Linked DNA regions of Homo sapiens. The protein of the gene in region 3 purifies or fractionates together with the protein of the main gene of each other region. This does not show direct contact. Each region holds a gene or a part of one and is shown on either strand. Other genes may lie near its edges.

What was found.
Region 1: the proteins of FAM3D (region 3) and CNN1 purify together in Homo sapiens (affinity purification with mass spectrometry; one large-scale study listed by BioGRID and IntAct). This does not show direct contact.
Region 2: the proteins of FAM3D (region 3) and SPECC1L purify together in Homo sapiens (affinity purification with mass spectrometry; one large-scale study listed by BioGRID and IntAct). This does not show direct contact.

What each region holds. Positions count from the first base shown.
Region 1 is NC_000019.10:11,541,742-11,545,390, forward strand, and holds part of CNN1 (calponin-1), read left to right. Parts: intron 1-3,649. UniProt on the Homo sapiens protein: Thin filament-associated protein that is implicated in the regulation and modulation of smooth muscle contraction. It is capable of binding to actin, calmodulin and tropomyosin. The interaction of calponin with actin inhibits the actomyosin Mg-ATPase activity.
Region 2 is NC_000022.11:24,277,320-24,280,968, reverse strand, and holds part of SPECC1L (cytospin-A), read right to left. Parts: intron 1-3,649. UniProt on the Homo sapiens protein: Involved in cytokinesis and spindle organization. May play a role in actin cytoskeleton organization and microtubule stabilization and hence required for proper cell adhesion and migration.
Region 3 is NC_000003.12:58,663,855-58,668,064, forward strand, and holds the start of FAM3D (protein FAM3D precursor), read right to left. Parts: upstream 2,921-4,210; 5' UTR 2,722-2,920; exon of another isoform or gene 2,684-2,721; intron 1,080-2,683; exon of another isoform or gene 779-1,079; intron 1-778.

The DNA.
Region 1 (3,649 bases), on a different chromosome or scaffold from region 3:
CCATGCCTGGCTAATTTTTGTATTTTTTTAAAGTAGAGATGGGGTTTCACCATGTTGGCCAGGATGGTTACGAACTCCTGACCTCAATTGATCCACCTACCTCAGCCTCCCAAAGTGCTGGGATTACAGGCACGTGCCACCATGCCCGGTTAATTTTTGTTTTTTTTTTTTTTTTTTCAGTAGAGATGGAGTTTCACCATGTTGACTAGGCTGGTCTTGAACTCCTGACTTCAAGTGATCCACCTGCCTTGGCCTCCCAAAGTGCTGGGATTGCAGGCACATGCCACCACGCCTGGCTAATTTTTGTATTTTTTTTTTTTTTTTTTAGTAGAGACAGTGTTTCACCATGTTGACCGGGCTGGTCTCAAACTCCTGACCTCAAGTGATCCACCTGCCTCGGCCTCCCAAATTGCTGGGATTACAGGCATGAGCCACCTCGCCCGACCTTCTTCTTCTTCTTCTTTTTTTTGAGATGGAGTCTTCCTCTGTCACCCGGGCTGGAGTGCAGTGACATGATCTCAGCTCACTGCAACCTCTGCTTTCCGGGTTCAAGTGATTCTTGTGTCTCAGCCTCCTGAGCAGCTGGGATTACAGGTGCCCACCACCTTGCCCGGATAACTTTTGTATTTTTAGTAGAGACGGGATTTTGCCATGTTGGCCTGGCTGGTCTCGAACTCCTGACCTCAAGTGATCCACCCGCCTTAGTCTCACAAAGTGCTGGCATTACAGGCATGAACCACTGCACCCTGCCGGCCCTGGTTTTCTCCTCGCCTCAAAACCTCATTGCTGAGGGAGGTGAAAACCCTAACAGCTCCCAAGCCCCAGTTCCACTGCAATCTTTTTTTTTTTTTTCAGATGGAATCTTGCTTTGTGACCCAGGCTGGAGTGCAGTGGCATGATCTTGGCTCACTGCAAGCTCTGCCTCCCAGGTTCAAGCAATTCTCCTGCCTCAGCCTCCTGAGTAGCTGGGATTACAGGTGCCCGCCACCACGCCCAGCTAATTTTTGTATTTTTAGTAGAGACGGGGTTTCACCATGTTGGTCAGGCTGGTCTCGAACCCCTGACCTTGTGATCCACCCACCTCGGCCTCCCAAAGTGCTGGGATTATAGGCGTGAGCCACCGCGCCCGGCTCCACTGCAATCTTAATGCATAGCAGGGCCCTAAACCCAGCCTGCGCCCGATCTGCATTTGAGTCTGACCCAGGGCAGAGTGACTGTGAGTGGCCTCGGGAAGACTTTGAAGGTGCAGCTTCATCAAGTCCTAGATGCTGGGAAGAAGGGGTGTGGGGGGTGTTTACCTTGTTCCATTCCCATCCACTAGGAACAAGGAATTGGCAGGTGGGGAGGTAGGCATGCTGGTGTCCCAGCTCAGGCAGAGGACTGCTCAGACGTCAAACAGTGCAGTCCCAGCCTGGGCAACATAGCCAGATTCCATCTCTACAAAACATTTTTGTTTTAATTAGCTTGGCATGGTGGCATGCGCCTGTGGTCCCAGCTACTCGGAAGGCTGAGGTGGGAGGATCGCTTGAGCCCTGGAGGTCAAGGCTGCAGTGAGCTATGATCGCGCCACTGCACTCCAGCCTGGGCAACAGTGAAACCCTGTCTCAAAAAAAAAAAAACTAATGTAAACGACAAGTTGATGGGTGCAGCAAACCAACATGGCACATGTATACCTATGTATCAAACCTGCACGTTGTGCATGTGTACCCTAGAACTTAAAGTATAATAATAATAATAATAATAATAATAAAAGAGTGGGCCGGGCGCGGTGACTCACGTCTGTAATCCCAGCACTTTGGGAGGCTGAGGCAGGCGGATCACGAGGTCAGGAGATCAAGACCATCCTGGCTAACACGGTGAAACCCTGTCTCTACTAAAAAAAATACAAAAAATTAGCCGGGCGTGGTGGCAGGCGCTTGTAGTCCCAGCTACTCGGGAGGCTGAGGCAGGAGAATAGCGTGAACCCGGGAGGCGGAGCTTGCAGTGAGCCGAGATCCCACCACTGCACTCCAGCTTGGGTGACAGAGCGAGACTCCGTCTCAAAAAAAAAAAAAAAAAAAAAGACCTAATGTAAATGACGAGTTGATGGGTGCAGCAAACCAAAATGGCACATGTATACCTATGTATCAAACCTGCACATAGTGCACATGTACCCCAGAAGTTAAAGTATAAGAAAAAAAAAAAGAGTGTAGTGCAGTCACCCACGCACTCCGGTCATTCACTCATTCATTCATTCATTCATTCACAAAAGAAGCATTTATGAGTTCCTGCTGTGTGCCAGGCTCTGGCCTAGGCACTGGGAACAGTGAACAGAACAGACTCGACTCAGAGCTCAAGGACTTTTAGTCCAGTTGAGGAGATCAATCATATAATTGATCAAATAATCACAGATTTGTGGTCGTAAGTGTCCTGGGGAAAACTCAAGCGGAAGGGAAGATGGGAGGGTCAGGTATATGTCTGCGGGTGGAGAGTCTGCAGTTTCCTAGAGAGTGGTCTGGGAGGCCTCTCTGAAGAGGTGACATTTGAACAGAACCTTAGATGAAGTGAGGGAGGGCTCAGGGGACCTGAGGCAAAGCAGAGGGGGCCACCAGTGCAAAGGCGTGAGGTAGGATCGTGCTTGGGGTGTTCAAGAAACAAGAAGGAGGCTGGCGTGACGAGCACCAAATGATTGAGCAGAAGTGGAGATGAAGTCGCAGAGTGAACTGAGAGTCAGATGGTGGAGGGCATTTTATTTCATTTATTTATTTAGAGACAGAGTCTTGCTCTGGTGCCCGGGCTGGAGTACAGCGGTGCAATCATAGCTCACTACAGCCTCGACTTCCTAGGCTCAACTGATCCTCCCACCCCAGCCTCTTCAGCCCCAGCCTCCTCAGTAGCTGGAACTACAGGCACACATCACCACGCCCGGTGAAGTTTTCGGGTTTTTTTTTTTTTTTTTTTTGTAGAGACACGGGTCTCACCATGTTGCCCAGGCTGATCTGAAACTCCTAGGCTCAAGCCATCCTCCTGTCTCGGCTTCCCAAAGCACTGGGATTACAGGTGTGAGCCACTGTGCCCAGTTCTACAGAGGGCATTTTAGGCAGAGGACTTAGGATTTCATTCTGAAGGCAATGGGAGGCTCCTGGAGGATTTGGAACTGGACGGTAACTTGAACTGTTTAAAAAAGGCCATTCTGGGCCAGGGGCAGTGGCTCATGCCTGTAATCCCAGCACTTTGGGAGGCTGAGGTGGGCATATCACTTGAGGTCAGGAGTTCGAAACCAACCTGACCAACATGGTGAAACCGCGTCTCTACTAAAAATACACAAAATTTAGCTGGGCATGGTAGCAGGCACCTGTAATCCCAACTACTTAGGAGGCTGAGGCAGGAGAATTGCTTGAACCCAGGAGACAGAGGTTGCAGTGAGCCGAGATCCCGCCACTGCCTTCCAGCCTGAGTGACAGAGCAAGACTCCATCTCGGAAAAAAAAAAAAAAATTCTGGCTGCTGGATGAAGAAGGGTGGGTCTGTAGGGGATGAAGTGGAAGTTGGGAGCTCATTACAAGAGGCCAGGAAACAGACTCTGGTGGCTGAGACCCAGGTGGAGGTGGCGGGGAGCAGTGGGTGGTTTTCTGGACTCATTAAAAGGCAGAGCCAAAGAACTTTGGAGG
Region 2 (3,649 bases), on a different chromosome or scaffold from region 3:
TCACTTGTCTTTTTTCAGCCCAAAAACTAAGAATGTTTTGCATTTTTAAATGGTTGGGGGAAAAAAAATCAAAAGACTATTTTGGGCTGGACACTGGCTCATGCCTGTAATCCCAACACTTTCGGTGGCCGAGTAGGGTGGAGAGCGTGAGCCCAGAAGTTCAGGAGTTCAAGACCAGCCTGGCCAACATGGTGAAACGCCGCCTCTACAAAAAAATACAAAAACTAATGGGGGGCGGTGGCAAATGCCTATAGTCCCAGCTACCTGGAAGGCTGAGGTGGGAGGATCACTTGAGCCTGGGAAGTCAGGGCTGTAATAAGCTGTGGTCATACTGCTGCCCTCCAGCCTGAGCAACAGAGTGACACTGTCTCAAAAAAAAAAAAAAAAAAAATGTTATTGAAACATAGTCACATTCATTCACATCTGTAGTGGCTGTGGTTACTTTTGCACTACAATGATGGAGTTGATTAGATGCAACAGAGACCTTAAGGTCTTCAATGACTAAAACATTTACTGTCTGGCCCTTTACAGACAGTCTGTCAATCCCTAATTTATTATATGCCTTCTTCTCCCTCAGCTAACTAATTGCCTCACCCCAGGAATGTTCATTACTACCTCTTCTTTGTTCAAGCCCCAGCTACTCCTCAAAACCCAAAATTCCCTTCTTCCCCTTTCCCAAATCCTAACCATATCAGCAGTTTGTGTGGAAGTAGGTAAGCAAAACACCATTCGTCATTATGTAAAGCAAGGCATTGGAGATGCGGTCCCTACATGTACAAGGGGAGGCTGATTACCCCCCAATTCATTTCCAATTTCTCAAAGCAGGTTGGCAGGCTAGCACCTAGGAAGGAGAGAGTGAGCAGATGATGCAGACAGAGCACTGAGAAACTCCTCAGTAACTCATGAGAGTTCATGTGTCAGTCCCCTTGTCTGCTATGTCATCCTTTAGACATCAATTCAAGACAGCAAAATTCAAAAAAGAAATGAGGAAGAAAAAGGTGATGAGGGGCAGAAGGAAAATAGAAGAGAACTTGTCACTTCACAATGTAGAGACTGTCACAAACTGTGGTGAATGGAAAACTATTCTGTTCACCTGGGCGTGGTGTCTCACGCCTATAATCCCAGCACTTTGGGAGGCTGAGGCGGGCAGATCACTTGAGGTCAGAAGACCAGCCTGAGCAACATGGTGAAACCTGGTCTCTACTAAAAATACAAAAAATTAGCCGGGCATGGTGGCACATGCCTGTAATCCCAGCTACTCGGAAGGCTGAGGCATGAAAATCACTTGAGCCCAGGAGGTGGAGGCTGCAGTGAGCTGTGATTGCACCATTGTTGCCCTACAACCTGGGCAACAGAGCTAGACCTGTTTCTAAAATAATAAATAATAATAATAATAATTAAAAAAATAAAATGTACATTTCTAACTTCATTTCAAAGTTAAGGCCAGGTGCAGTGGCTCATGCCTGTAATCCCAGTATTTGGGAGGCCGAGGCAAGGGGATCACTTGAGCCCAGGAATTTGAGACCAGCCTGTGCAAAATAGTGAAACCTTGTCTCTAAATTAAAATAAAATAAAAAGTAAACAAAGTCAAATTTTTTTTAAAAATCAGAAGAGAAACGTTGAACTGCATACTTCCAGGCCCAACAGAGTAGAGGTCAGCACAGGCGCAACCAGGTTGCATATCTACATACAATCTGCCCTGGCAGGAAGGATATCCTTTTCTTCCAGGTTTAACCACTCTAGGTGACCCAGATTATTTTAAATTATAGCGTCAACAATTTAAAGCAGCTTTTACTGTAAGGCACAATCTCAATAATTAATAGGGCAATATAATAAATACATAAAAGCTCAGGGAGAAAACAAGACTCTTGAATGGGCCTGGAAGTTTTGCCACGTCCCCCGAAGTACTCTCGGTTGCATCCTTCGGAACCTTTCAACACATATACATATACCTCCCTCATCCTTTTGTGAAGAGTGTCTATTAATCACTAGATTAAGAGGATTTGGATAAAATTTATAAACGTACAAACTGTGCTACCAAGGACTGACACATTTACTTTTCTGGCTCATCAGTTTATGTCCTAGAAAAACTCCAGATCCACATTAACCAGCTGTTTCCTATTTTACATTTTACGATGGTGTTTCCACTTTCACCTGCAAAGTGACTAATAGTAATACCTATTCCAGTAATTTAAGTAACACCATTTAGAGTAATTTCATCTTTAGTACTGTATTTATACTACTAAGAAAGCTGCCAACGATTCAAGCTGCACTCACTGGTGAAACCCTATGCTATATATGTAATTAATTTATTTCCTAAATTCTTACCTCCCTCCACCCCCTCCATTGGAAAATAAACTCTAAGAATGCAAAAGTTTTTGTGTGTTTTTCTTTAACGCTTAGAGCAGTGCCTGGCACCTAACAGTCAATATCTGCTAACTTTGATGAATGAATGGTATATTTATATTATGCAATATTACTATGCAGCCATGAAACACAATGAGTTAGAGTGGTACCAGCTAATTTAATGGAATTTCCAGAAGTATGAAATTAAGAAAACAAGAAGAAAAGTGTCAAAAATATCATCCCACTTTTTTTTTTCTTCCCTGAAACGGAGTCTTGCTCTGACACCCAGGCTACAGTATAGTGCTGCCATCATGGCTCACTGCAACCTCAAACTTCTGGGCTCAGGGAATCCTTCCACCTCAGCCTCCCATGTAGCTGGGACTACAGGTGTGTGCCACAACGCCCAGCTAATTTATTTTAAATTATTTTTTGTAGAGACAGGGTCTCCCTATGTTGCCCAGGCTGGTCTCAAACTACTAGGCTCAAGTGATCCTCCCACCTCAGCTTCCTGAAGTGTTGGGATTACAGGTGTGAGCCACTGTGCCCAGCCTAATCCCACTTTTTAAAAAGTATACCCCCAAATCCATACACTGGTGAGGAAGTGGAGAACGTGGAATCCTCATACACAGAATTTAAAATGGTACAGCTCTGGAGAACATTATAGCAGTTTCTCAAAGTGTTTAACATAGCTACTACACGACCCAGCAATTCAATTCCCAGATATACACCTGAGAGAACTGAAAGGATATGTCCACACAAAAATTTGTAGAGGAACTTGTACACACTTGTTCACAGTAGCATTATTCTTAATAGCCCAAAGTGGCAAAAACGCAAATGTTCATCAACTGATGGACAAATAAAGCATGAACAACTGATGGACAAATAAAGTATATCATTCAGCATATAAGAAATGAAGTGCTAATACATGCTACAACAGGGACAGACCTTGATAACATTTTGCTAAATGAAAAAAGCCAAACAAAAGGTCACATGTTGTATGATGCCATTTACATAAAAATACCTAGACTAGGCAAATCCATAGAGACACAAAGATCAGTGACTGCCCAGAGCCAGAGGGAGTGGTGAATGTGAAATGACTACTAATGAGTACAGACTTCTTTTTGAGGTATTGAACATGTTATGGAATCAGATGGTGGTGATCAATGCATAACTTTGTGAATATACCAAAAACCACATGAAAGGTACACTTTAAAAGCCTGAATTTTAAGGTATGTGAATTATATCTCCATAAACCTGTGATTTTGTTAATATACGCTTATTTGCAAATGAATACATGGATAAT
Region 3 (4,210 bases):
GCTCCCAGCTCCATGCCTCTGCTCACAGGGATTTCTCCACCAGGGCTGCCCTCACCTGTCCTCGCCAGAGGAATTCCATACTTTGTGGAATGTGGCCTCCTTTGTGAGGTCCCCCTTCTGCAGCCTGTGCAGGCCTAGATCATTCCCTCTGCGATGTGTGTGCATGTCGGAGGGAGAGGAGTGTGGTGGCCAACAGCATGGATCCTGGAGCTGGACTGCCTGGCCATAAAGCTTCTCTCTACCGTTCATAGCCTTGCCACCTTGGGCAGGTTACCTCACCTCCTTAGGCCTCAGTAGTTCACTGCAAAATGGGGATGATAAGACCTCCCATGCAAAGTTATTGTATTTAAACCAGCTAATCCATGTACAGTACTTGGCACCATTCTATAGACACAGTCAACCCTCCATATGCGTTGCCCAGTTTTGGGACTGCTGTTTGTACTGATTACGTAGAACTTGTTCACATCTCTTGTACAGTGCAGTCCCTGACTCCTTTTACTCTCAATCATTGATGTGACTAATTTATCTGATAGGCTGTGAACTTCCTGAGACAGTGTCTAATCATTTCTGAATGCCCAGTTCCATGCAGACTGCCTGGTGCATAGAAGGTGCACAGCTTGGACAACAGCACTGTCCTATATTGTGCACCTACTACGTGGCAAGCATCATGGTAGATGCTTTGCACACATTGTCTTTTTCAAAATGCACACTGTCAAATCCCAAAGAACTTATTACCGTCCTCATTCTTTTGAGATAAGGGAGGGTCAGACAAGCCAATAAGATAGGCAACTTGCCTAAGGTCACATGGTTGGAAAAAGGGCAGAACTGGGATTCAAATGCCAAAGGCAGGGTTGCTCTCCCCACAACCTCTATGTCTTTGTCTCCCCAGGCCACACCCTTGGGGGAGCAAACCTCTGAGCCTCCAGAAGCAAGGGATTGGCACCAACTGTAGGAAATGTCTGCTCCGCTCCAGGGCACCTGCCCTCTGGGACTGCAGGCTGGGTGGGGGCTGCCAGTCCCCCAGGCAGGCTTGTCGGCTGCCCACTTGAAGTCTCACCAGGACTGCCAGTAGTAGACAGGTAGGTCTCCTCCAAGGGGGAGCAGCTGCCCCAGCACCAGGAAATGTTGGCAAATGATGACTTCGAGCATCCCCCACCGCAGGGAAGTGCCAATGAGGAAGTTAGGCCCCTGGGTTCTGGAGGCTTCAACATTCCTATGGGAAGCAGCAGGGTCTGTGTGTAAAGATGGAGTTGAGCTCAGGAAGAGGTGTGCACACCATGGCCATAAGACAGAAGCCCCTAAACCTCCAGGTGCCCAAGGGCAGACAGGCAGATGCACAGATTTGGGCAGATGCTGAGCAATGGCAAACTCCTCCCTAGCCTGTGCAGACCTGGGCGCAACAACCTCACTGACTTCACCTTCCACCACCAGCTACTACCCCTTTCCTGCTTGAGCTGCTCTGCCCTCCTCTTTCTTTCCTCCTGTTCCCCCTTCTCAGAGATTCTCCACTGACCCAATCTTTTCCTCCCCTGCCCTTCACTCCTGAAGGACCCGGCATTCTCTTGGGAGAAGTCTGCCCTGACTCCCAGGCTATCTCCATGGTGTATGTCAAACTGTTTTGAAAATGACTATCTGTGCAAGTTTTCCCTTTCTGGTTAGAACCATGTATGATACCTCATCTTGTTAATCATTGTGTCTTTTTTACCTGACCCAATTAATGCTCACTGGATGAATCATCTAGAAGGACACTCTTGTACCCAGGCAGCCCACTTCCAGCCATGGACTCAGAATCCACTGCAGTGTAGAGTCAGTGTGGCATAGTGGGCAGGAGCAAAAGCTTTGCAGCCAGATTGCCTGGGGAAGTTATTAAATCTCTCACTGCCTTGGCTCTCCGTCTGCAGAGTGGGAATAATCATGGTGCTTTCCTTGTAGAGGTGATAGGAAGATTAAATGTGTTATTATATGGAGAGCACTTAGCACATCATACATGTTATTTTATGTACTTCAGTGATGATTATCATAGTTGCGTAGACAATGAGAACTTCAGCGATTGATGGGGGATATTCAGACTCTCTCTCCCATTTTACAGATGAGGAAACTGAGTCTTAGTGAAAGGGACTAGCTCAATATTACATAGCTAGAAAATCTCTCAAGTCCATGCACCTTTGTCATAACTTTTCAGATCATTACCTTATGAGAAAAATGAGATTTGGGGCCAAAGAACAACATTCCTTTCTTTTTTATTCATTTTTCAAATATTTGTGTGGCTCACTGTTGATCATTGGAATGTGTTTTTTTGAATCAATAGATGAGTGAATGAAAGAATAAATGTTGAGGGGCCCCTGTGGTTAAGGAAAAAACCCTGCAGTGTGGGTTATCAAATCCCTAGCTGGCATGCCCTACAGCTCCTTCTTGTGCCCATGGCAGACATAGCTAATCAATCATAGCATGCTTTTGCCTGAGCCCGAACCCAGCCCCAGAATCCTTTTTATCACAGTCTAATTTCATTGATCAGGCCTGGTGCCTCAGATGAAATCTATTTGCCTTCCTGAGTCTGATCTCAGGAATCTCTTCGATTATGTGGTTTCCTTCTTTCTTTCCTTTCATCATTCTGTCTCAGGCTCTTTCACTCCTATTTCCCACCCTCCCCACCTCCATTTTCCCCTCTGTCAATCATGTGTACCTGGAACCATAGCCCTTTCCATTCTTGGGGGGACGTACCCGAGGGCTCGAGGCTCCCACTTCCCTGCTTCGATGGAGAAGGCGAGGTGGTCCAGCAGGTGCCGTAGGTCCCTGACCCAGCTGACCACCACCCTGGGCCAGCTTCTGACAGTCCCACCTCCCAGTTGCTGGAGGGGTAGTGGCCTCACAGACGGCCCTCCTCTAGATGCAGTGGGCCCAGAGGGTGAGACGGAGTGTTGCGGGCCGCCAGTGGGCCAGCTGCTCCTGCCCTGCGCAGGCTCTGCCCCTCCTTTGAGGAAGTTTGCCATCAACTCTCCCTGCCCTGTTAAACAATCTCACAAGGAAGGAGGAAGTTTATTCTAAGTGCTCACGGGGCAGGAAATGAGTCTAAAGTCTTGCCTGGCTGAGGAGTGGCTTAGGGCCTGGCTGGGGCCTGGGGAGAAGGGCCATGCCTGTTCCCTTCCTGTAGAGCTATCCTGACCTTGGCAAGGGAGGTTTGGGTGGGAATTCAAGCAACTTAATCAGGAATGAGATACCACAATCTGCCTTCGAAAACAGCCAAAAAACCTTACAAAAAACCCGACCCTGTGCTAACAACCTCCCCAGGCGCTGGGAGGTGTGGGGCTGGTAGAGCGAGTAACTGCAGCTGATGATCACCTGCTTTGAGGTTCTGGACTAGAGTGTGGGGGGGTGCTGGAGGGGCTGACTGGAAAGAGGGGAACCCAGGCAAGAAACTCAGGACAGGAAAGATGGAGGAGGTCAAAGGCAACTGCAAGATATTGAGCTTGGATGATGGAAAAGGGAGGCTTCTTGGTCAAGAGTGAGGAAGATGGGGGAGAGGAAGTGGTTTGGGAAAAGATTCTGGATTTGGGTGGGGCATATTGAATTAGAGGTTAAAGGTGGAGGGGGTGGGGTGTGGAGAAAGGGAAAGACGGAGAAAGAAAAGAAGGGCTGCTCAGTGGCAGACTTTTAGTGAAATGGTGAATGCAGCCTTTGTCTCCCTTCTCTCTCCTTAGGACCCAAGGTGCACTGAGAGGGGCTCAGCTTCCCCCTCCCCTGATCCAGCACTCCCAGTCTTTGTCACAAATCATGGTCTCTTTCCCAAGCGCTTTCCTCTTAGGAGGAGTTCTTGCCTCGGTCCTTGGCACACAGGCTCCTGGCAACTTCCTCCCTTGTTTGCTGACTCTGAATGCTTCCGTAGGCTGTGTGGCCCACTTGGAAGGAATATTCAGGGGCATGAGGTCCAGCAGCTGGTCAGGAAATGAAGATGCATGCCCAGGGAGCTGGTGCAAGGGAAGAGCAGGGAGCGGACCCTGTGTGATGAGGTGCCGGGAGTGGCCCCAGTTCTGCTGTTCCAGCTGCCCATCCCCAGGTAGGCACGTGGGCCCCCTCAGGATGTATCCCAGGGCGAGGCAGTGCTTTCCTTCACTCTGACTGGCTTTAGGACTGGTCCTGTCCTCTGTCCCATCTCCTTGCCTCTTGCTCTCCCTTATTCTGCTAGGACGGTTCTGCCCATAACTGGTGCCTG